Linked DNA regions of Homo sapiens. The protein of the gene in region 7 interacts with the protein of the main gene of each other region in a pairwise test. Each region holds a gene or a part of one and is shown on either strand. Other genes may lie near its edges.

Region 1 (3,500 bases), on a different chromosome or scaffold from region 7:
ATAATCAGATAATTTGAATGATATTTGTTTAAGCTGTACAACCACTTAAATTCATTCCTGAGCAAGGAATTTTCCTTTATTTAAAAAATATTTTCAGAGAGACATTTTACATTAAACATTTAGAAGTTTAATATATAGCAATATTGTATTGTCAATTGTAATCATTGATCATTTGAAAGTCTCCCTCATCTGATATTTTTATCAGTCTCTGCAAGGAATCATATTAAGGTATTTCTGAGAAGTTCAGGGCTAGATATAAATATAGCTTTTGTGTCTTTCTTCCTTGCTCATCTCATGTGATTTCGGGTAGCCAAGAGTCACAAGAATCATAAGTTTTCCATCTGAGAGCACATCAAGTCACTGAGGGGAAAACAGTTAACAGCATTTTTTTTTTTTTTGCATAATAGTGGTAATGTTCAAGATTTCTGCTGCACTTCCTTCCTCATTGTCATTTTCTTATGAAAAAGTAAAGAGAAGTTACAGTAGTTGGTTGCTTCCCAAATTAATAAATGCTGGGTATACAAATGTGTAGTCAGCACATTGTGTAAATTGCATTTTGTAGTATTATTTAGTTATAACCCTTTTTATCCAAAGACTGTGCAACTGAGATCTTTCAGAGACATTGGATGAGATGGTGTCACTTTTACCTAGAAAGTACTTTGCTTTGATTCACTGAGCATCAATCTTTTTCTTTTTTGAATATCAAGCTCAATGTGTGAAAATGAAACACTACTAAGCCTTTTCAGGTATGTATTTGAAATGTTATGTATATGCCTATTTAATTAAGTTTCAAGTGAATCCATATTCAGAAGGACATAATGATACACAGTTTAGGAATATTGCCTCCGAATTAAAGGCAATCTGGCTGTCTTTCTGCCTTATGTCTAACCTTAAACATTCTCTAAGACACCTCTGACTCAGCATACTGTGTCTAAAACCACATAGTATATTTATTTTTAAAACACTTGTAAAAGTTTGCGTCTTCCAGTCACCCCTGGGATGAAGATTTGTAAAAATAAAGAGCACTTTCTTCCTTAAGATGAAGAATCCTTGAATAAGCAGAAAGAGGCCAAGATGCAGGTGATTTATTTAAGTCTGTGTCAATGATAATGATGTCATGGTTTCCAGCACACTGTGTCCACCCCATTGTGGGACGAAAGAATGTCAAGGACAATTCCAAACACAAAACTTTGATTGTGCTGGAACCGGAAAGGCACAGTAAGAACTCCACTGCGCTCTTCAGTTCAAAACCTGCATCCTGCAGACAAACTCCAGAAAGCATGGGAGAAAGAGCAAAGGAGAGAGGGCTTATCTCAGAGTAAAGCTATGTGCTGAGGTATGACTGTAGACAGCCAGGCACCGGGGATAAAACACTACTAAATAAAACTGCACCAGAATTAGAGTTATTGTCTATATTGTGTGTTTTGAACAATAAATAAGAAAAATATTTTATCAGAAGAAAAATGTGTTATCTCAGAGTCAGGATAAACAATGAGTAGCTTTTTAAGACCAATTTCTTTTCATTAGACATCAAGGCACCACATCAGAGCACTTTTAGAACAATAAAAAAAAAGAACAATAAATCATTAGTAATCATTAGAACTAGACAGGTAATAGCCGGGTAAGTTTCTTGGTCCAAATAGCCAAATGAGATTAGGGATTTACATTTTATTTAATTATTGTGACTCCAGAATGCTGGTTTATTTACCATAAAGGTAAGAGCAAAGAACAGCCTGTTCACTTGTATCACAGGCACCATTAACTACAGGTGATAACAGGGTCTGCAATGCATTCATATGGATTACTGTATATTAAAACGTTTAGAATTATGATCCATGACCAACACAAAAAGCTGCCACAATCACAAACTACTACAGCTTGACATTGCTGTTTGGCTGTTTTTCAACTATTGATATTAAATTTTTTAAATTAAACTTTTTTAAAAGAGGTTTGGGGCTGTACATTTGTTACATTGTTATTAATTATTCTTCTAAGGGTGGAAATTCTAGTAATTGGTCCTTACCCTTGATTTCTAGATATTAAAATTTAAAGCATCAGAACATTCATTCTTATAGCCCTGCATATCTAGTTCATTAACAAATATGAATAGCTAACACCAGCTCATTTAAATAGTATGTCTTACATGAGTTCTCGCCACACTCTGTTTCTGTCACACTGCTCCCAAGAATCATTGGCTCTTATTATACATGTAAATGGCTATCATAAAAATAAAAATTTCATTTAAGATTGTTAATGACTTCTGCAGCAGTCAGACTTCCTTTAATGATCATCCTCTGCCCCTAATTAAACGTATTTATCTTTCAAGCATCTTTGGCTGAGTTCTCCCTCATAGTTGAAAATCTAAAACCTTAAGGCTTAATGGATATAACGATAAATGTTTATGTGTGGGATTGCTGAGATTCGAGAAACCTTCACCGAAAGCAAAATTGGAAACGGAAAGAGTAGAAAACTTGGCACAGTATGTTAGGAAAACGAAAAACAAATACACTGTACTCAAATTGCCATCAGTCTTTTTTCTTTTTCTTTCATCTCACATTTAATTTTCTTTCGTAGTGGAAGTGCTTTTATTATCCTCCTTCCAGTATACCAAACAATTATTCTGCCTATGTTTGATGGTTTATAGTCTGCGACATCACAACAGCATATAGGTAGACTCCTTCCCAGCCACTTCACCTATTTATAAAAATGCTTTTGTTGCTTATGTTGTCAAAGAAAAAACAAGGTGGGGTAAACAATGATAACTCTCAGTGGGTCCTGGGAATAGAGATGAAGGTGACATGAGGTCTGAATTAGAGAGGTCATTTAAACAAATTTTCCAGGCCACTTTACCATGTAAAGATGAGCAGAGAAAGTTCACAGGAATAAGATTTCTTGTATTTTGTTAAACATTTCATACCTTAGCGATTCTCCGTCATAAGTGAATTTTAGACCAAGACATTTCCCGTTTGCACAGTGTTGTCGGAAGTTTTAGTTTGAATATAATTTACCTTAGTTTTATTATAGTTGGCCTGGGACCATTTTTACTTCCCTTGAGAGTCCCACCAAACAGCAGGAATCATTATCAAGTACTTAGCTGATAAATAATAAGAAAGCTACCTGACCAGGTAAAAGTGTGAAATCACATTCACACTTAACAAAAGGGAATCATTAAACGATTGAATTCCAATAGGAGGTGTCAGACAGACACTGAAGCTACATTAAACTGACAGTTATTTGGTTTGAAATGCTACATAATTTCCACACAAAATATTTTTATATACATATATATGTTGTGAGTTTTTACATTTGCTTCCATTTCCTATCATGAAAGTATAGATCTTGATCATGTTACATAATTTGCACATTGTAAATGTGGTGCAAATACCTCATGTTATGTGTTGAAAGTGTGGTTCATGTTTGACTTGCATCAAAACTGAAATATAATCCCTTCCTAAGATGTAACTGCCGCAATGTGATAACATTACTATCACTTCATAATC
Region 2 (3,500 bases), on a different chromosome or scaffold from region 7:
TACCAACCCAGGTTTGCAGACAGCCAGGGTCTGCCCGGGAACTGGCGGTGGATGGGGTGGGTCTATGTGGTTGTTTGAGGGGCTGGGGTGGGAGGTGGTCACTCTCCAGATGTCTTAGCAGAAAACTGGGGGCTAGAGGAGACACAGCTGGGAAGGCGGGGCCAAGAAGGAGGCTGGCAGCCATCCTCCACCACACCAAGCTCCACCAGAGGCTTGGGTCATGCCAGGGACTTGGGTCGGACATGTGAGGCTGCACAAGCCACTTAGCATCCTTGGCTGTGTTTGTGGATGGAGCTGCTCGTCAGCCTACCCTGCCCTGAAGGTGCCCTTCCAGAAACAGCTCCAGCATCTCCTCTACCAGGAAGCCTCCCTGATGGCTGAGAGTCCTCTGCTGCCTCCAAGGGCCCCCTTCACATTCTACTGCTTGGACTGCCTGCTATGGTCCTGTCTCTCTAGAAAGTCTAGAAACTTCTGAGGAGCAGGACTATGTCGCACTCATGTTGTAACCCCAGGAACTAACCCAAAGTCAGGTACACAATAGGTATTGAATAAATGCTGGACAGACGGGTGAATGAACGATAGGATCATGACAGTGCTTCAAGCCCTTGGAAGCACAGCTGTTATGGAGAAGTTTACTGCACAGTGGTAGACGGTGGCACGGCCCGAGTGCCCCACTGCCTATACTCAACCCTAGCTCTGCCACCTCCTGGCCACGTGATGTGAAGCAGGTTACTCGGTGCCTCACTTTGCTCATCTATAAAATGAAGATATTAATGGCATCCTGCCTGTGGAGGTGTTGTCAGGTGAAATTAGGTGACAGGTATAAATGTGGAGCACCTGGCACACAGCCGGTGGCCCCTAAAAATCTGCTCGTGTTATTCCACAGGTCCCAAGATGCTGCGATTCTCTGCCGTGATCCCAGAAAGTGGGTGAAACAGCCTAAACCTGTTCCTGCTGGGAGGATGCTACCTGAAACTCGTGCCCAGCTGGCGGTTCTCTAGGAGGCTCCATCCAAGGGATTTGAATTCCCACAAGCTCTCCTCCATTTAACAAGATTGAGAGTGAAAGTGAAAATGAGCCCCAAGCCCAGCCTTCGCGTGACAGCTGTGGTCAAAACTGCCGCTGTGACTGTCAGCTCCCCGGGCTGTGCGCAGAGCCTGCCGGGTGGTCCCAAGGGTCAATCATGGGGCTGGAGCTTGGGGAGGAAGGGGATCTCCACGCCCTCCCCCGAAGCCAGCTTGGGTGCAGGATGGATTCTGCACACTCCTTTCAAATTCCCCACTCTCCAGGAACCCTCCTGTCCCCCTGCCCTCTCTGCTCACATCATCTGCTGCCCTAGACTTTGGAGGCTTGAATTTCTGCACGAGGTGACTGCCAACAAATGACAAGAGCAGCCATTTAGTGAGCACGTAATTCATTTAATGGTGCTGAACACAGAGCAAGTGCTGCATGAGTATTTTGGTTAGGGTTCACTTGTACCTTTTAGGTTTAGCTCTTATGCAAAGCCTGTGGTTCAGATCCATGTGTCACCCTCAGGTCACTACGTCCCACTGCAGCAGGTATGGGGAGAATCATAACCATAACACCTTCCCTTGCAGTGAATTTCTCTCTCATATTTGTCTTTAGTTTGAACCACATAATAAATCTATAAGCGTATTATAGTTCCTATTCTATAGATGAGGAGACTGAGGCACACTAAGGGAAAAAGTGACAAGGAAGAGACTAGAGGCTACATCTGATTTTACACCAAGTATTCATCCCACACAATGAATAGCAACCACCGGATGTTTTTCAAGATTTGAGTGAAGGCCAGAATCAAACTGAAGACTATGTGTGTGTGTGTATGTGTGTTCATATTCAAAAACACTACATACACGCTACATGTATTATATATATTATATAATATACACACATAATAACATATAACATATAAGTATATAATAGGTAATTATATATTTTTATATTAATAATATAATATATATTATATATATAATATACACACATATACATACTTTCTATAAATCTACTCCAAAAGCTTCAAGGTCTCCCAAATATCACATGACCCGTAGCTAAGGCAATCCTGAAACCTGGCTGCTTGGGCTAGCCTGGGGACACACGAGGAGTCAGGAACTGGGCTGTTCCTTGGCACCCAGGGCGCTCGACCTCCTTCCTTGCAATGCTCTCTCCTTCTGCCAAAACTTATCTTTCTGATCTGCCTTTCCCCCCAGGATCCAGGGTGGTCCTAGGAAACCCAAGGAAACGCTTCCAGCTGGAGTGCTCGGAGGTGTAGGACATTGTTCTCTTCCCTTCCCGGGTCCTGTTGTTTTAGAACCTAATCAATAAAAATTAAGCTGGTGCCTGTGGGTCCTTGTCCTGTCTCCATCCAGGCCACTTTCATAGGTTGCCTCATTTTACTTTTTCAGTACTAGGGAGAAGAGTGGTCTTCCCATGGCGCGGATGAGGAGACTAAGGCCTGGAATGTATGTGGTACAGAGGTTGAGACCACGTCAGCCTGCGCCGTCTTCATCAGGCCCTCTGACACAACATTAAGGGCATGGCAAGGAGTCAGTTGCTCCGTGACCCTAAACCTCATCCCTCTGGAGGCTTCATCTCTGCTCTGGCTAAGAAATGCTCTGACCTTGGTAAGGAAGGGGGGATGGAATCCCAGCCACCTTGCCCTTGACCCCTATGAGTGGCCAAGTCGTAGCCAGGGTGGGCCTTTGGCCATGGGGGCAGTGCTCTCAAGCCTCTGGCTGCCCTGGGGCCTGGTGTCTAGGGCCTCACAGCTGCTAGGAGTTTGAGCCTTTGCTCAGACCCACACCATCAGCTAAGGAAAGCACCCACAAAGGCCAAGCTTCCAGTTTACCCCCAGCCACCACCACCACCGGCTGCGTCATCTCAGACCTTTTGATGCTGATTTCAAGCTCCCGGCTTTCGGGTGCCAGGGCCTTGGGGCTTCCAAGGCTGGGCTGGGGCTGCTGGAGGTGACTCAAGAGGTGTGCTCAGGGCTGCAGGCCCCAGCTGACTCCACAAGACAGGGCTCTTCTCTTTGTATGGAGTAGGGGTGTGACTGCCCCTACATAACCCTGTAGGAGGTGACAACCAGGGATTTGAACCTGTCCAAAGCTGGCTCTGCTCCCACGCCAGCAGACACTCTGTGCCCATTGTATAGAGGAGGAGACTGAGGCTGCATCTGAAATGGAGCGCCTCTTGCTGATCCAAATCTTGGTGAATCTCTCCCGAAGAGTCTAAGACCCTAACGAAAAGTCTTGGTAATTTATTTACTTATTGATGTACATTGAGGATGCCACTCCAAAAAGAGAGCAAGAATGATGGTGAGAGGAAGAGAGGGAAGAAGGAAAAACACAGGAAAAACCTCCCTGTAGAAGGTTTTTTGAATGTGGAAAGTGCCCTGTTGCAATGATGAGCATCCATTCTGCACAGGACATGCCCACTACCTGCGGCAGTGCCCACACCACCAGCTAAGAAAAGCACCCACA
Region 3 (3,500 bases), on a different chromosome or scaffold from region 7:
TCATGCATTAGGTATCAAAAAGTATTTTGAATTACAAAAAATCTGAACAAACAACAGTTGAATGTGCTGAGACAAAATGACTGATAGCTTCCACTAAAGGAAGACTTCTGTGTCCAACAGAGGACTGGTGTGGGTCATTTAGACAATAAACCAGCTTCTGCTTATTTAACATTTTAAACAACAGGAAAAAACAAGAAGTTTTACCTTCACTACTTCTATCTCCTCCAAAACTTAATACAAAAACTTTTATATGTAGTATCAGAAAGGGAAGCACTGTCATAAAAAATGACATCTAAAAGCACTTTTATTTTTGTTTTCAGTTCATTCATAAATATTTTTGTACACCTTTTTCACATCACCTATTCAGGGATCAACAATCATTCAACATAATCTGTTAAATCTAATTCCGTGATCTCCCATTTAAGAACTTCAATAATCTCAGCCCAATTTCCTGTTATTTCATATATATGGACCCTCTACTCCAGAGAGCCCATTTACCTTAATATTAGATCCTCACCACAATTACACCTTTAAGCTCCCCATTCTTCTATATCTTCCTCCAAACAATCAGGGCCAGTTTAAGCCCCTCTCTCTTCATAGTCTTCCTAAGTAACTTCAACCCAGAACTGAACCTCTCTAAACTTCCAAGTACCCACTGTATAAAACTCGATCTTGTACTTAATAACAAATATGCACAATGTTAGATGTTGTGTGCTGTAGTCGTAAGTTTCAACTCATCTACAACAAAGTACATTTCAAGATAAGGAATCTCCTTTTATAAATCTCTTCTTTTTCAGCACCCTCTAAGAGGGCAGATCTTGTATGGAACCAGATATGCACTCACATTAGCTGCTGATGAGTATTTGTTTTTGTTTTTTGAGACAGAGTCTCACTCTGTGGCCTAGACTGGAGTGCAGTGGCATGACGCACTGCAGCCTCAACTTCCTGGGTTCAAGCAATCCTCCCAAGTAGCTGGGGCTACAGGCATGCACCACCACATCAGGCTAATTTTTTATTTTTAGTAGAGATGATGTCTTGCTGTGTTGCCTAGGTTGGTCCTGAACTCCTGGGCTCAAATCATCCTCCTGCCTCAGCCTCCCTAGGGGTTGGAATTACAGGCATGAGCCACAGCACCTGGCTGAATATTTGTAAATGAAGATGCTTCAACAATTTATTTAGTATAGCCACAAATCATGCCCTAATTCATGTTTCTTAATTTACATTCTAATATCAGATTTTCTAAATGCAGAAAATCTACATTTAGAATTTTACAGAATATTTCTCTATGCTAAATACTATACTCCTATATACAGTTTTAGACAAATAAGCTGTGATGGAATAAGATAAATATCAACTATATGAAACATAACAGAACTTGGAAGACAAGGAATAAGTTTCAGGTCCCTTTTATATTCTGTCAAGCACAATTGTGGCACACAGTAAGCACTTGATAAATATGTATTGATAAATAAATCATCATCTACTAATAAACATCATCTCCAAATGCTAAATTTGGGGTAACCAACTAACTAAAATATTCTAGGGTCTTAACAATTCCTTAAGTAGCTGATTTTAATGAGCCTAATTTTGAAAAATTTATATTCTACACTCAGCTGCCAACCCCTGAAAAATGAAAACAAGCAAGTAAATTATGGCAAACGATGCTAATATTATTTCACAACATCGTTTCTCAATGTGTCACACCAGAACACACTACCACGTACACCTACCATGTACAATGCATTATGTTGGAAGCCTTGTGCTAGACACTGTGAAGATAAAAGAATGAGATCTCTACCTTGAAGAGGCCAAAAACCCAGTTAAGTTAAAATGTAAACAACTAATTATGTAAGACAGAACGTGAAAGTCATCCTGAAATATGTTACAGAAGGAGAATAGGAGAGTAAGGAGTAAAAATTTTAAAGGAGTCACTGGAAGAAAGTTAAGTGTAAGTATATATATTTCTAAGAGATACAGGCCAGGCGCGGTGGCTCACACTTGTAATCCCAGCACTTTGGGAAGCCGAGGTGGGTGGATTGCCTGAGGTCAGGAGTTGGAGACCAGTCTACAATCCCAGCTACTCAGGAGGCTGAGGCAGGGAATCGCTTGAACCAAGGAGGTGGAGGTGGAGGCTGCAGTGAGTCGGGATCGCACCACTGCACTCCAGCCTGGGCGGCAAAGCAAAACTCTGCCTCAAAAAATAAAAATAATAATAAAAATAATAGATACAAGATGTGAGAGGGGGTGTCAATTCAAGTAGACAAAAAACCAAAGCAAAAATGCTAAAAAGTTGCTGGGTGTGTTCAGAGAGGAAGAAACAGTTCAATCTGATTGCAGCCAAGGATGTAAAACAGAATTACGAAACACTGGGGTCTGAGAAGTTGACAGCATTTGCATATATTTCCTATTTACAAGGCTACTAGAAGCACTTGGTTTTTGAGAATCAAAAAAAGTAGGGGACATTCATATGATCTCTATGAACCTGCTCTCTAAGGACACAAAGTAGCTTAAATTACAACTGAAGAGAGAATTTCAAGAGATGGGCTACTGTGAAAACTCACTTTAGGTTTCCAGGGCATCGCACATGTTTACCAGTATAAAATCTTTAAATTAAGTTCATCTGACCTTAAGAACACAGCACAAGGTACATCTATTTATTCAGAGCACTGCCCACGGCTAGAGTGAGTAGGAGTTTTGAAGTCAGGGTAGAACTCATTGGTTATGACAGCCAACAAGTTGATTAAAATACACACTGAAATGCTGTAACTTCAAGTCTTGAAGGCTTGTTGATGGACACTTAGGCTTATAAATAGCCTTCAAAAATCCATGTATGGGTAATAACACCATATTTATAGAAATATGTACATGCTCTCTAAAAAGAAACAAACAGAATAAACTACAATGATGTATACTATTATAAATTGGAAACACTAATCATTTAGCACTGCATTAAAACATATTGGCCAGGCACAGTGGTTCATTCTTGTAATACCAGCACTTTGGGAGACCAAGGCGGGTGTATCACGTGAGGTCAGGAGTTCAAGACCAGCCTGGCCAACAGAGTGAAACCTGTCTCTACTAAAAATACAAAAAATTAGCTGGGTGTGGTGGCAGGCACCTGTATCCCGGCTACTCGGGAGGCTGAGGCAGGAGGATTGCTTGAACCCGGGAGGCAGAGGTTACAAGTGAGCCAAGATTGCGCCACTGCACTCCAATCTGGACAACACAGCGAAACTCAATCTCAAAAAAAAAACTTATTTAGGTCCTCAATGTACTTTATCAACTATTACATGCACATAATGGTCAATTAAAGAGTAACAAAATGGCTTGCCCTAATTCTTTTTAAAATGTATGATTTAAAGTAACTTGCAGTCTCCAAAATATATACTGACTAAAAGTCTCAAAGTCATTTTAGCATTAACGATGCAAAATAAGAATCAAAATTTTAAAAATAGGACATTAAGCCATTACAAAATATTTCCACTTACAGTATCTTATTT
Region 4 (4,223 bases), on a different chromosome or scaffold from region 7:
AATACAACCAGATATCTGGGAAATGCCATAAAATTTAGTGTTAAGACAATAATAAATCTGGAAATAGAGTTTTTCCACTTTTCAGTTGTATGGTCACATATTAGAATTGCAGATCCTAAGAAAACCTGTACAGAAAAACCCAAATCACAGAGTCATTTAAGTGTAAAGAAAAAGCCAATTATTGCTTAAAGAGTATTTGTAGAAAATATCCGTTGAATATAGAGGAATAACAGCATATTCATAAAAATTTTTTAAAAAGTGTGCACGACAGTGATTTTAACACTTCTAATCCAATGGAACTAACATTTTAAAGTACAATTATGGCCAGGCACGGTGCCTCATGCCCATAGTCCCGGCTACTTGAGAGGCTAAGGCACGTGGATCACTTGAGCCCAGGAGGTGGAGGCAGCAGTGAGCCCTGATCATGCCACTGCACTTCAGCCCAGGTGATGGTGTGAGACCCTGACTCTAAAAAATACAATTATGGTTACGGTTCTTGGGCAGAGTGGAATTCAAACAGGTTAACCTGAAAGATCAGTAGGGTTCTAAATCCAGGATAAATTATTTTCAGAAAAAGAATAACTTTTTGAATCTTTATTTAAATTGTTAAATGTTCCTGTGAGTAACACTCATCAGCGTGATTGTGACTGGTATGGCTGCATGGAAGCTTCCCTGTGGCATTAATCATAAAATGCTGGATTGGGGTTTGATTCTTCAAGGTATAAGAAGGACCTAGTCTCAAGTAATAGATTCACCAAAATGTAACACCACTAGCCCCCTCCCACCAAAATCTGCTCCAGTCAGAATTACCGTAAGAGCTCAGAAGTGACCTGTGCTTGGCGGCACCGGCCCACTTTCCCAGTGCCGGTTCCTCGCATCCTGGGCGCAGACGGGGTGACCGCCTGACCCCTGGACCCGAGTCACCTTTCCCTGCCCTGAGCTCCTCCTTGAGAGCTTCAAAACAATGCTCGCCCAGGCCGGAGGGCGAAGTCGGCCCATGTGTAAGTCAAGGGAACTGTCCCAGGACTGCAGCCCGGCCAGAAGACGCCCCGCGCCGCCGTCCCAGGCAGCCACCGCTGCCGCCGTGGCCCCCGCAGGCCGCCGTAGGCCCCCGCGGGCCGCCTGACCCCTGCGGGCCGCCGTAGAAGGACCCTCCAGAGGCCGCGCTCTTGAGATGGCCGTCGGGCTCCGCTCCCCGCGGCGCCCCGGCTGAGGGCCCGCCAGCGGGCACCTGGCGCCACCGCTGCGTTCCGGCACTAGCACGGGACACGGTCAGGGAGCGGCGGGCCGCGGCCTTGCGCGCGCCGTCTCTCGGGGCGGGGCACCGGGCCCCTTCCGGGGATGGGCCCCGGCGCCCGCGTCGGCCTGGCTGTGCCCGGCCCCTCCCCGCTCGGGCGGGCGCTGCGCCGTATCCCCGCCCGTCAGTCCGCCCGGCTCGGCTGGCCGCAGAAAGGGCCTGGGCGGCCGCACTGAGAGCTTTACGCCCGGAGGCGTCGGCGCTGCCACTGGCCCGCGACGGGAACGGGGCGAAAAGGCGGCGGCACCATGTTCTCCCTCAAGCCGCCCAAACCCACCTTCAGGTCCTACCTCCTGCCACCGCCCCAGGTAAACAACCCCTCCCCGCGAGCGCCCGACTCTCCTCTGCGCTTCCGTGGAGCCTCCAGGCCGACCCCCGGGAACTGGAGGACCCCAGGAGGCTGCGCGCGTCTCCCTGCCCACAGCAGCGCGGCTGCCTGATTCCCGGCGCCGCGAAATGCGCCTTCTCGGGAGCCCCCACTGGCTCGGCGAAAACTTGTAAAACTCTTCTGCAGCCATTCTCTGCCCGAAGTTCTGTCGTCCGTAGTTTTGCGGAGTGTTGAGGCCCAGGGGAGCCTTGGGAGCTGGGGTTTTCTTTAGTTTCCAACCCATCGACCCTCCCTCGTATGACCGCCAGCATGATTGCAGCGCTTGGGGTCACTGGTCGAGGCGGTTACCCGTCTGTCATAAATGTGAACACCTGGAAGCGACACTGGCAGTTTAAACATTTTTTATTATTAGGCTTCCAAGTCGATAATGAGCAGATCTTAAAAACAGCTCAGTTAATATGCGAAAGAATTTAAATGGGGGGCTGTGTGTCTTTCGCATGTGTCATCACTTAGAAAACAACATTTGCTGTAGCATTTTACGGAGGGTGGGGGGATTGAGATTTTGATTTATTTTGCTAATGTATTTCAGACTGACGATAAGATCAATTCGGAACCGAAGATTAAAAAACTGGAGCCAGTCCTTTTGCCAGGTAAACATTAGTTAGGATTCTAACAGATACTTTAGCAACGTATTTTGGTTTAAGATTATTCTGCCGACTAGTATCATGTGGTTAACTTCCCTTCTCTCATTAAACTTTCTCCAGTTAAAAGTCTAGTGACTGAGAGGAGAAAAAGGAACTGTCAAGAATGTCATTACCTCATTTCCTTTTTTGTCTCCCGAATTTCTTTTTGAAAAGATGTATATGTTTAATTGCTTGGGTAGTAAAAGTACTCTTTGCTGACGTGTTTGCCACTTATTGCATTAATGATTAATCATTTTAATGCATTTTGATAGTATAAAAAGACGCCTTTATTATGTGTGTGTCTCTATACCAATAACAGAGCTTAGTGAACTTTGAATTACTTGCTTGGCAATTGTTTTTTGAAGTTGTCAGCTGTATTTGCAAATTTGCTTGTTTCAGTTTAGAACCAGGCTTTTCCCAGCAGAGACACTTAATTGACATTTGGGGCCAGATAATTCATAGTTGGACGGGCAGGCTGTCCTGTGTATAGCAACAAAGATGGCCTCCACCCACTAGATGCCAGTAGTAGTACCCTTATCCCCCACCACCTAGTTGCGACCTAGTTGCCACACCAAAATGCCACCAGTCATTGCCAATTTTTTTTTGTCCCCTACCTCTGGGGGACAAAAATCTCACAGTTGAGAATCACTGCTTTAGAACAAAATTTGCTATAGGTGACCTTAGAGATGGAAGTAGGGATTGGTGGTAGAAAGGGGTTTGTTTTAGAGCATACAGAATATTGGTATGGTATTTTGAATTGTATAACAATTGTATAATAATTAGGAAAAGTCAGTTGTTTAATGCGATTATTAGGGGAAGTAGCCAGATACTTAGGAAAGCCTGTTTTAAACCTGAAATCGGCCGGGCACGGTGGCTCATGCCTGTAATCCCAGCACTTTGGGAGGCCGAGGCGGGTGGATCACGTGGTCAAGAGACCGAGACCATCCTGGCTAACACGGTGAAACCCCATCTCTACTAAAAATACAAAAAAAAATTAGCCAGGCATGGTGGCGGGCGCCTGTAGTCCCAGCTACTCGGGAGGCTGAGGCAGGAGAATGGCATGAACTCGGGAGGCGGAGCTTGCAGTGAGCCGAGATCCTGCCACTGCAGTCCAGCCTGGGCGGCAGAGTGAGACACCGTCTCAAAAAAAAAAAAAACCTGAAATCAAATACTAGTTTGTGTGGCTACTATCAGCATTGCAAAATCTGACTCATTACTTAAAGCCAAATCGGTAAAATAATTAGAATTTTGTAGGTAAAAATTGAACAAATGTGGAAACTTTAAAATTTTAAATATTATATAGGGACAAAATATTAAAAACACCAAACTTTGGTTCCATATGAAAGTTTAAAAAGTGTTTTTTAAACTTTACTATGGGAGTCATAAATATTTTCCCTTGATTTTGTTAGTGCTTTTCACTCAACAGTGTGTACTAATTAATCATTTGTACTTTTCCTCAGAGTGAACAGTAGAATTACTAAGTAACCCTTGCTCCCTGTGTGCTCTGTTTTAGTCTTAGTCACTCTGAGCATTTAAAATGCAGGGACGAGGAAACAGTACTCATCTTGAATGAGTGCCTATGAGCTATTGAACTTTGACTTCGTTTACTCTGAACAGGCCTGGTTCTTAGGCTTTGATTCCTCCACTCTGCATACTATGATTTCACACTCAGAAACAACATGGTCTTAGCTGTAAATGTCAGTGCTTGCTTTTTAATTTTTTAAAATTTTTTTTAAATTTTTTTTTTTTTTTTTTTGAGACAGAGTCTCACTCTTACTTGGGCTGGAGTGCAGTGGCGTGATCTCGGCTCACTGCAACCTCTGCCTCCCAGGTTCAAGCGATTCTCCTGCCTCTGTCTCCCAAGTAGCTGGGATTACAGGAGCCCACCACCACACCTGGCTAATTTTTCGTATTT
Region 5 (3,500 bases), on a different chromosome or scaffold from region 7:
TCATCAAAATCAGAAGCTACTTCCCTAGAAACAAATGTTATATATATATGTGTATATATATAAATTATTCTTATCCAAAGAAATGAAATCAAGCCCTCATGTAGGTTGGGTGGTTCAATATGAATTATCTGTCTAGCTCTGATCTGCACCAGTCCTGCTGACCCAAAATATATGCTGATAACTGGCAAGCTGGGATGGTTGCTATTAGCTATGGGACACTATACAGCTAAACAGCCAAAATGGTAGCCCATACTTAACAAGAATTAGCTCTTGGGCAATGTGAGGACAAGGTTATGATGGGCTTGATAGCTTCAGACTAGAGTCTAAATAGCTTTTCCTTTTGCAAAAATATCCGTTGCTTCCGTTTTGCAACAAACATGCTCCTAATACCACTGAAAAATGCATTGGTAAAAATTAGCCATATATTAAATAAACCATGAGTCTGATGTTTCCAAAACATTTACAAGAAAGTACACTTGCTGTGTAGCTTCTGCCTTGTGCCATTAAAAGGAAAATTTAAGTTCTTTTCTGTTAAGGTTCCAGAATGACCTTCCTCCCAAGGGCAGTGATGGGAAAGCACCAAATGTAGTATACTGAGTAGTTACAGACACTTGCTAGAACCGTTCTCTAGGTCCTCAAGAGACTATCTGTATAAAGGGACTTAACTGTTTATCAGCTCCTTATTTTTACAAGTTCTATTAATATAATTAGGCAAATTTGAAAAATTAGAAATGTGATATTTTATAATTACATGCAAAATTTTTAAAGATAAACATATTATGAATATACTGAATTGTATCTCCCAATTTTTAAATACCACATTAAATTTTCCTTCTATTCCACAGAGAAAAATGTAAAGGCATTCAAATTCAGAATGCTTTAACTTTCATAGGGCTGGATGTTAAACTTCCCTTGATGATTTTAAACTCCTTCCTTTCCAAGAGATACATATAGCGACTGAGTTGGCTGTTAAATAGATCACACTAAAATGAAAACCTAGTCAGACCACTTCCCCACTTAACAACCCTTCAGTACTTCCTCATCATCTACTTGGTGAAGGCTCACACGAGTCCCACAGTCTTTTCTAGCCACATCCTCTAGCACCCTCCCCAAAAGACCTTGTGCCTCAGCCCTCCCAAACTCACAGGTCTCAGAAACTGACAGCTGCTTTTTACATCTTTGTGCCTTTTAACATGATGGATGGACCCACTGTCTGAAAGGGCTCTCCCCATGCCATCCACCTGCCAAATTCCTTTCAGATTCAGTCTAAGCATGGCCATGCTGTCAGTATCTACACACCTCTCCTCTCAGCTGCAGTGCCTCCCCAAAAGATCTGCTACCTTCATAGACAGATCAAGAAGCCTGTCTAGTAAACAGATACTTTAACCGGTATTTTGTTAAAGTATCTGTTTATTTTCTCCAGTCAGTGAATCCCCAGAAGGTAAGGATTTTATCTTTTCACATACGTCTTCAGCAACAAGGACAGCATCTGGCACATAATAAGGCTGAAGGGAAAGAAAGAGAGGAAGGGAGGAAGAGAACGGAGGAAAGAAACTGAAAACCTACGGATTCCAATGTTCTTTTGAAATCCTATAAAGGCTGGAAAACATGATGGGAAGGATGACGTTAGAGTTTTCTTCTATCAAACTCATGATGTATTCATTATTCCAATAATAGAGTGCTCTTTCTGCCACCTTTGGGAAAAGAAAAATAAAATGTTAAGAGAGAGAAAAAGACAAAGATAAAACAAAATTATAAATCTTTCCAAACAAAAGTATTTCAAAAGGCTATTTGTAAATCATTCAATTAGAGGTAAAATTAAATATTAATCACATTTTAATATATATATATTTTTTGAGATGGGAGTCTCGCTAGTGGCGCGATCTCGGCTCTCTGCAACCTCCGCCTCTCGGGTTCAAGCGATTCTCCTGCCTCAGCCTCCCGAGTAACTGGGATTACAGGCACATGCCACTATGCCTAGCTAATGTTTGTATTTTTAGTAGAGGCGGGGTTTCACCACATTGGCCAGGATGGTCTCGATCTCCTGACCTCGTGATCCGCCCACCTCAGCCTCCCAAAAGTGTTGGGATTACAGGCGTGAACCACCGTGCCTGGCCCACATTTTAAATGTTTGTGGATTTTTAATCTCTTGGAAAATTCCAAAGTGGGCCAGGCACGGTGGCTCACACCTGTAATCCCAGCACTTTGGGAGGCCAAGGCAGGCAGATCACTTGAGCCCAAGAGTCTGAGACCAGCCTGGGCAACATGGGGAGACCTCGCCTCTACAAAAACACAAAAATTAGCCGGGATTGGTGGCATGTGCCTATAGTCCCACCTACTTGGGAGGCTGAGGTGGGAGGACTGCTTGAGCCTGGGAGGCGGAGGTTGCAGTGAGTGGAGATCATGCCACTGAACTCCAGCTTGGGTGACAGAGCAAGACCGTGTCTTCTCCTCCCACCAAAAAAAAAGTCCAGAGTGGTTCAAGTGGTTCATCGACTCAGGGAAGGAAAAGAAGTTTTCCTGTTAATTTATATTCTTCTCTAATTCTGCCCATGTCATCTGATTCCACACTTTCCTGACATCACTTTAGCACATCTCACTGGTCCCCTTTCTTATGTTTTTCATCACACACACTTAGATCGAACCCAGGGCCCAGCATATGGTTAGCATTCAGTCACAGCTACTGAGGAACACCCACAGTTGCTCATCCCTGTAGAGCGGCCAATATTTACTAAGTACCTCCTATGGGCAGGCACTGTGCCTACACAGCAAGTAGAATGTATCATCCTTACCACCATCCCAGAAGGAGATACCATTGTGCTCATTTTACAGGTGAGGACACAGAGACTCAGGGAGACTGAGTAATGTAGGCAAGGTTACACTGACAATATGGTAAAGACTGGGGCCTCATTTCTAGGGCTTCTTCCAGAGTTTGTTTCTGGTCCCTTCCTGTGCAAGCCAGGAGATGTCTGCTCAGTTTCTGGTCTCAGGGACACTGGCTGCACCTACCCTCTCTGCTCTCTTAGATCCCTTTTCTCTGCCCACCATGCTATCAACTGGCTCTAATTTGGTCTGCTGGGCCTGATTGGCTCATCTTGGATTTCATGAATTCAAAAGAACATCTCAAAAACAAAACCTAAAATCTCTAAAAAGGGTAGTTACAGGGGAAAAGGGAAAAAGGGGTGGCTTCCTTCATTTATACAGATTAAGAAGCCCTGTTTTAGAAGAGAACAAAATGGTATAAGATGTATCTACCGAAAGACACTGAGAAAACAGAATTTTTCCATTTACATTATTCAGCTTGGTTCAAAAAACAAAACAAAACCCTGAGACTCATTAGGCACCAGACCCTGAGAGTACAAAGAAAACAATCATTACTGCATGTTCACTATATGCCAGGCACTGTGCTAAGTGTCCCACATATATAATATCTCATTTCCTCACAACCAACAGAGTTGGTACCATTACTTTTCTATTTTGTGGATGAAGAATCTGAGACT
Region 6 (3,500 bases), about 23 Mb from region 7:
AGGCTTTCCCAAGGAAGGGACCTGTTAGCTCAGACTGAAGAGGCTAGTAGGAGATGGTCAGGTGAAGAGAATGTTCCAGGCAGAGGGACCAGCATGTACAAGGGCCCTGAAATTAGCATGAGGTTGGCACATACACAGAATTAGAAGAAAGTCCCCTACAAGACCAGATAGCAGGGACTAGATCATGATATACTTATATAGGTCCTACGAAGAATTTTAGTTTGTTGTTGTTGTTGTTTTCTCAAGTGCATTAGGACACCATTGAGAAGATTTGAGCAAAGTCATGATGTGGCAATACCATTTAAGTTCTTTTGTTGAAATCTTATTTCTTACTTATCACTTAAATGCTTGCACTCCATAGAACTCTGTGCATAGACCCTTTGTCATGCTACATATTCTCTCCATACTATGAGTGAACTTCTCTGCTTCCCTGGCTTCAACTGTTCTCCAGAGACTACTGATTTTCAAATCTTCTAGATCCACATACCCATTTCCCTCCTGGACATTTCTACCTAGATGGTCATAACTACCTCAAAACAGGGAATTATACTTCTGGCAATTATGTTTTTATGAGGGAAAAAAAGCTATAATTATATTCTTAAATTAGAAGAAAAATTGTTGGAATTTTGATTTTTGGTTAAACCTTATGAAATTACTGATATGTAATTATTTTTGGTTTAAATGAATGCCTTATTTTTGAGTAAAGTGCATATTTACATGTTTTGTAGATATGTTCTTAGTTATGTCTCTTATTGTTTTTTTCTCCAGTTTGGTGCCTTGCCAGCTGATTGTAATATTCCTTTGCCTCCCTCTAAAGAAGGTGGAACTGGCCACTCAGCACTTCCTCCTCCGCCTCCACTGCCTTCTGGTGGAGGGGTGCCGCCTCCACCTCCTCCCCCACCACCTCCTCCACTTCCAGGAATGCGGATGCCATTCAGTGGTCCTGTGCCTCCACCACCTCCCCTGGGATTCCTTGGAGGACAAAATTCTCCTCCTCTACCAATCCTGCCATTTGGGTTGAAACCAAAGAAAGAATTTAAACCTGAAATCAGCATGAGAAGATTGAATTGGTTAAAGGTAAAAGAAATTAATAGAGGAAAATACTTTTACTTAGATCTAAATCTAATTTTGGATTTATATATACATAATTTCTAATGAGATTTAATTTATGCCTACATAATTTAATTTATATATACATAATTTCTAATGTCACTAATCAAAGTGACAATAAAATAGCTTTTTTTTTAAAGTATTGGGACAAATCCCTTTCATATTGACTAAGACTTTCTGCTTTATAAATACAGTGAGAGTTGATGTTGTTCCAGTGGAATCCGATTTGTAATTAAATTGATAATTAAACATTATTGCAGTGAATCCTATGTTTATGAAGTGTTTCTCAAAAAAAAATGATGGTGTTCTTAGGAAATTTTCTCTATTGATAGATGTTGGGAAAGTGTTAACTAGTTGTCAGAAGCTAATATCTAGTCAGATCTTAAGAATTCAGAATCCTGCAGAAAAATGGTTTCATGGTAACAGAAACATGGAAAATGCTGTATAATGTGTCCTGCCCACCAAAATGTATAGTGCAGGTGAAGATTATTAGAGACTATGAGAAATGCAATTGAGAAGAAGCTAATTAAATCGTATTTCAAATCCTCAACTATTGGATCATGGAAGCCTTTTCTTCCTAATAAGACCTTAACATCCTGCAGAACTTGTATCTTATTGAACACACTTCAGGGAAAAATCTTACAGATACGACTTTATAAATATCTGCTGACAGCTATGATACTCAGTGTATGCATAGTGCTTGACTTGGGACAGGTGAAACACTCACCTATTGATGAATCAGTCTTCTCTCTGATTGTAGATCAGACCTCATGAAATGACTGAAAACTGTTTCTGGATAAAAGTAAATGAAAATAAGTATGAAAACGTGGATTTGCTTTGTAAACTTGAGAATACATTTTGTTGCCAACAAAAAGGTAAGTTTAACATCTTGATTATTTATTAATTTGATTTTAGAATTTTAACATATACTTTTTATGTATCAATTTTCAGAAAACATTATTTTATGAATCCTGTACATGTTATTTTTACATTCCTAATGGGCAAATAAATGGTATAATGAAATAAAGTGCTTAAAAAGTAAATTCTGTTTTAAAAATGCAAAAGGTTAATATAAAATTTTGATTATTAAATTTTCTATATGATATTATTTTTGAAGATATTCCATTGGGATAAATTAGACTTTTGTAAAAGAGGATATTTTCTGTGACAGTTTTGGCATGAGAAGGTCCTTCAGTTTGAAAAATAGAAAAACAAAATGTGTGCTTTCTTGTAGTTAGAATTTTACTACCCTTTAATATTACAGTGACTAGGGGAGCTAGGAGAGGGATAGCATATAGCATTAGGAGAAATACCCAACGTAGATGACGGGTTGATGGGTGCAGCAAACCACCATGGCATGTGTATACCTATGTAACAAACCTGCATGTTCTGCACATGTATCCCAGAACTTAAAGTATAATCCAAAAAAAATTACAGTGACTATCACATAATTTAATTAATTGCTATGAGTCACATGGGATAAAAATATCAGATTTATAATGTCTTCAAAGTTAGCTTGAAAGAGAAGTATCTGAGTAGGTTATATGATCTTTTCATTAAAAGCAATGGCATTCATTTTCCAAAATGTTTTGTGATAGGTTTTACCTGTGCAGTGTGATTTTTAAAAAATTGTTTAGGTATTACATAAGTGAAAATTGAACTTATTTCATCCAATTTCGTGGGCCTGCTACTTACATTTCAAGGCTGATATCCACACAGAATTTTTAAGTATTATATAAAACTTACATTTTAGGTCTGTAGTGCAAAACACTTAGATCAATCATTACCTTTTAATTTTCAAAAAGAAATTTTTCACTATAGACTTATGCCACCTATATCCCTGGGCTCATAGAACAAAGGAAGAGGTGGCAGGGAGAGATTGTACTGGATGGATACAGGTCAGAGACCTTTGTGTAGAGGGTTGAGTTGACTTCCTAAATGTTGACTGTTAGCCAGGCACCATGCTAGATGCTTTATGTATCTGTTTAACTTGAGCACAGCAGCCAAAGAATGCTGGCAGATATTTTAAAAATGTATTAGTATTCCTTTGAATGAGTTTCTGAAAGATTAGAATCTCTTTCTAAAAGGTAATTGTAAATTAAGAAATTATTAATGTAAATTAGAAACTCTCTCCAAAAGGTAATTGTAAATTAAGGTAGTTTTCTAGAATTTGATAAAAACAGTTAACAGATATTTTTGAGTACCATTTATCCTGACTAAAGTATTAAAAATGGTATATTTTTGGTCTTTGAACACAGGGAGAATTTTCTCAGCAAGCTCACCCTAGTAAATTTGTGAATAAGATTTTAATTTTACCTTTTGATTATGGAGGATCAAAATTTTCTTCAAATAAGATTAGTGTACTCTTCTGGCAATCAAGGAAAATACAT
Region 7 (3,500 bases):
TCCCTTTGCAGACAATTCCCAAATTTGTATTTCAAGCCCAAACCTCTCTCCCCGAATCCAGACTCTTATATCGAACTGGCTACTCAGCAACTCCACTTGAATGCAACGGACATCTCAATTACACCTGCGTCTTCTCCATCTTGATTGAAGGCAACTAACTTCATCTTCCTCTTTTTCTCCCACGCCTGATCCGCCTTCACAATTCAGAATCCTTCCACTTCTCACAGCTGTACTGGATCCCTCCAGGTGGGGGCGACTCTCACCTGACTATTACTATAGCCTCCTAAGTGGTTTCCCTACTTGCAACCTTGCCTGTATAATATCTATCCTCCACACAGCAGGCAGGGCGATCCTTTAAGAATAGAAGTTAGATCATGAAAATGCTCTGCTCTGATCCCTGCAAAAGCTCGCCACCTCCTTACAGTCACCGCTGAACTCGTAGCAGAGGTTCAGGAGGCCTTGCTATGGTTCCCTGCGGCTGCTCTCATCTCACTTCCCCTGCTCATTAGGCCCCAGCCACACTGGCCTGCCTGCTCTTCAGAGTTTCCAGGTGTATGCTGTTGCCTTGCTCTTCCCTCTTCTTCTGCTCTTCCTCCAGGGGTCCCTGGGCCTAGCTCCATGTCTCCTTCCAGTCTCTGCTGACCTGTCACCTTTTCAATGAGGCCCACCCTCATGTGCAGATGACTCCACTGCCCCCGTGCTCCAATTCCCTTCACCCTGCCCCCAGACTTTCTCTTTCCATCCTTCTTCTGTGTTTTGGCTGTTGTTTATTATCCATCTCTCCTTCCTAGAATATTGGTTCCCTGAGGTCAGAGATCTGTGAGTAAACATTGGCATGTCCCACGTGCCTGGCCTGCACATGGCAGGTGCTCAATAAACATTTGTTGACTGACTAAGTCCTAGAATCAGTAAAAATCAGAGCTGAAAGAAACCTTAAAGAGATCTGATCCATCAGCCCAGTGGTAGCTACAGCTGCTCATCTCAAATGTTAAAAAAAAATGATCTATAGTTATATTTACTATGTATTTATTTTAAAAGTTCCTGCAGTATTAGGAACAGTTTGTCTTCTGTGTCAATTGTGTAGCTTTATGAATGTAAATGCTGCCTATCTGAGAAATGTATCTAGTTATTAGGAAAATCAGATTTCTATATAAGCTTATATTTAATCAGAGTGAAATAATTACCTATGAGATATTGGCATTTCATCCTAATTTTAAAAACACAGACCCGGAAAAAAAAAAAACTGTATGATTCAAATGATGCCCTCTGCCGTTTCTAAAGCAACAGAACATTTGAAAAGATTTCGAAGTTATTTGTTAATATAACTTTATAATATATGCTTTCAAAACACTAAATTTGAATGAAACTGCTTTGTCACCATGAAAGAGAAATAATTTCAAGCAGCTGTTTTTTAAAATTGGAAACTATATTGTTCTTACTTTTTAAATAATTACTAAAGTGATAATAAAAACATAATTTGAGTATAGAAAAATTATTTGTCATGGTAATTTTAAAGTGCTAATAAAATTTACTTTGAAAAAAATGCCTGGAACAAGCCATGCTGATTCCCTGGATGGAATCATGGCAGTAAGAAAACTGTCACACATACCCCGATACTTTGATAAGCCCATATTTTGAAATACTAGACTCATTTGCGAGTACTTTGCAACAGACAAAATAGCAGGTGATGAAACTGAAGGCTTTCACTTCCATATACAAACCCAGTTGTCTTTCCTTCCCACTAAGAAACTTCCTTGGTTCTCCAGCCTTCATAGCAACCTTAATAAGATTCGATATGAGAAATTCAACAAATATTCATCAACAGAACATATACTGCTCTCTGAATTAATCACACCCGTTTCTATTCCAAATTGTTTATACCTTTATAACACTACTTAGTTTATTATCTTGTATTAGAACCAACCCTGCCTATTTTTGTAGCTTATTCATAAATATTATCTCCTCCATGTGCCTGTATGCTTTCTAAGAGTAAGGAGAGTATCTTACTGAATTCAGATAAATTCACCAACATTCACTGAGTGATAACAGTGCTTGGCAATTGGAAGGATGGAAAAAATCTCTGTTGCACTAGTCCTGTAAAATTACTGTTGTTACTTTATCATCTGCATTAAAAACAATCAAATAGCCACCTTGTTTTTCCTCAAAAGTAATGTGTAACAATTTTCATATAATTGCTAAACAAGACAGTTTATACTCAAAGAGGAACTCCTCCTAAAAACAATAGAATTCAAAAAAATTGGTTTTGGGCTGGGCGCGGTGGCTCACGCCTGTAATCCCAGCACTTTGGGAGGCCAAGATGGGAGGATCACAAGGTCAGGAGTTCAAGACCACTCTGGCCAATATGGTGAAACCCTGTCTCTACTAAAAATACAGAAATCAGCCAAGCGTGGTGGTGCGTGCCTGTAGTCCCAGCTACCCGGGAGGCTGAGGTAGGAAAATCGCTTGAACCCGGGAGGCAGAGGTTGCAGTGAGCCAAGATCATGCCACTGCACTCCAGCCTGTGTGACAGAGTGAAACTCCGTCTCAAAAAATAATAATAATAATAAATTGGTTTTGTCTATCAGAATTGACCGCACAACTGCCTGCCACATCAGTCAGGGTGCTTTTTTGTTTTGTTTTTCACTGAACATTTTATAACGTGATAGCAAGCACTCCTTACCTTAACAAAACTCATCCGGATAGTACACATCTTGGTCAGTTCATACACGACTTCAAAGCCGTGGTGAACTGACTGGGCCAGGAGCTGAGCGAAGAGCTGGTTGTTGAAGACCTTGAGGCTGCAGCCGCTGGGGATCTTGCAGACGGTAGCTGGGTGGAAGCCGTGTTGATAGTTGCAGTTCCGGCTCTGCACAAAGATGCTGCTGTCACTCACGCACTCGGCATACACCTCTCCCCCGACGTAGTACAAGTGCACACCTGCAGACACAAAAACACAGCCTTCCTTCACATGCCCTTTCATAGCGTGCCTCTCCCACTGATTCCTGAAACCCTAGGAGATGTGACTCTCCCATCAGGTTGTCAGATCACTGATCAGATGAATGAGATGTGTGACCTAAATGCCGCTTAGTTTAATGATAATCTGTGCTTTTTCCACAAATCCATTTAAAAGTGGATCGCAGCTGGGTGCGGTGGCTCACGCCTGTAATCCCAGCACTTTGGAAGCCCGACGTGGGCAGATCATTTGAGGTCGGGAGTTCAAGACTAGCCTGGCCAACACAGTGAAACCCCTTCTCTACTAAAAATACAAAAATTAACCAGGCATGGTGGTGGGCACCTGTAATCCCAGCTACTCGGGAGGCTCAGGCAGGAGAATTGCTTGAACCTGGGAGGCAGAGGTTGCAGTGAGCCAAGGTAGCGCCACTGAACTCCAGCCTGGGTGACAGAGCAAGATGTCATCTCAAAAAAATAAATAAATAAAAATAAAAAAATAAAAGTGGATTGCAACCCATGTTAACAATCACTCCCAAGAACCAGTCAGT

The links.
Region 1: the proteins of SMAD9 (region 7) and ZEB2 interact in a two-hybrid assay, tested with the Homo sapiens proteins (one large-scale study listed by BioGRID and IntAct).
Region 2: the proteins of SMAD9 (region 7) and ASB2 interact in a two-hybrid assay, tested with the Homo sapiens proteins (one large-scale study listed by BioGRID and IntAct).
Region 3: the proteins of SMAD9 (region 7) and TRIP12 interact in a two-hybrid assay, tested with the Homo sapiens proteins (one large-scale study listed by BioGRID and IntAct).
Region 4: the proteins of SMAD9 (region 7) and MTMR10 interact in a two-hybrid assay, tested with the Homo sapiens proteins (one large-scale study listed by BioGRID and IntAct).
Region 5: the proteins of SMAD9 (region 7) and PPP2R5E interact in a two-hybrid assay, tested with the Homo sapiens proteins (one large-scale study listed by BioGRID and IntAct).
Region 6: the proteins of SMAD9 (region 7) and DIAPH3 interact in a two-hybrid assay, tested with the Homo sapiens proteins (one large-scale study listed by BioGRID and IntAct).

The regions. Positions count from the first base shown.
Region 1 is NC_000002.12:144,426,120-144,429,619, forward strand, and holds part of ZEB2 (zinc finger E-box-binding homeobox 2), read right to left. Parts: intron 1-3,500. UniProt on the Homo sapiens protein: Transcriptional inhibitor that binds to DNA sequence 5'-CACCT-3' in different promoters. Represses transcription of E-cadherin. Represses expression of MEOX2.
Region 2 is NC_000014.9:93,970,071-93,973,570, forward strand, and holds part of ASB2 (ankyrin repeat and SOCS box protein 2), read right to left. Parts: intron 1-3,500. UniProt on the Homo sapiens protein: Substrate-recognition component of a SCF-like ECS (Elongin-Cullin-SOCS-box protein) E3 ubiquitin-protein ligase complex which mediates the ubiquitination and subsequent proteasomal degradation of target proteins.
Region 3 is NC_000002.12:229,912,010-229,915,509, forward strand, and holds part of TRIP12 (E3 ubiquitin-protein ligase TRIP12), read right to left. Parts: intron 1-3,500. UniProt on the Homo sapiens protein: E3 ubiquitin-protein ligase involved in ubiquitin fusion degradation (UFD) pathway and regulation of DNA repair.
Region 4 is NC_000015.10:30,988,829-30,993,051, reverse strand, and holds the start of MTMR10 (myotubularin-related protein 10), read left to right. Parts: upstream 1-1,423; 5' UTR 1,424-1,545; coding exon 1,546-1,605; intron 1,606-2,214; coding exon 2,215-2,275; intron 2,276-4,223.
Region 5 is NC_000014.9:63,382,878-63,386,377, forward strand, and holds part of PPP2R5E (serine/threonine-protein phosphatase 2A 56 kDa regulatory subunit epsilon isoform), read right to left. Parts: intron 1,695-3,500; coding exon 1,567-1,694; intron 1-1,566. UniProt on the Homo sapiens protein: The B regulatory subunit might modulate substrate selectivity and catalytic activity, and might also direct the localization of the catalytic enzyme to a particular subcellular compartment.
Region 6 is NC_000013.11:59,968,429-59,971,928, reverse strand, and holds part of DIAPH3 (protein diaphanous homolog 3), read left to right. Parts: intron 1-768; coding exon 769-1,077; intron 1,078-1,870; coding exon 1,871-1,985; intron 1,986-3,500. UniProt on the Homo sapiens protein: Actin nucleation and elongation factor required for the assembly of F-actin structures, such as actin cables and stress fibers. Required for cytokinesis, stress fiber formation and transcriptional activation of the serum response factor.
Region 7 is NC_000013.11:36,850,739-36,854,238, forward strand, and holds part of SMAD9 (mothers against decapentaplegic homolog 9), read right to left. Parts: intron 2,938-3,500; coding exon 2,681-2,937; intron 1,780-2,680; coding exon of another isoform or gene 1,600-1,779; exon of another isoform or gene 1-1,599. UniProt on the Homo sapiens protein: Transcriptional modulator activated by BMP (bone morphogenetic proteins) type 1 receptor kinase. SMAD9 is a receptor-regulated SMAD (R-SMAD).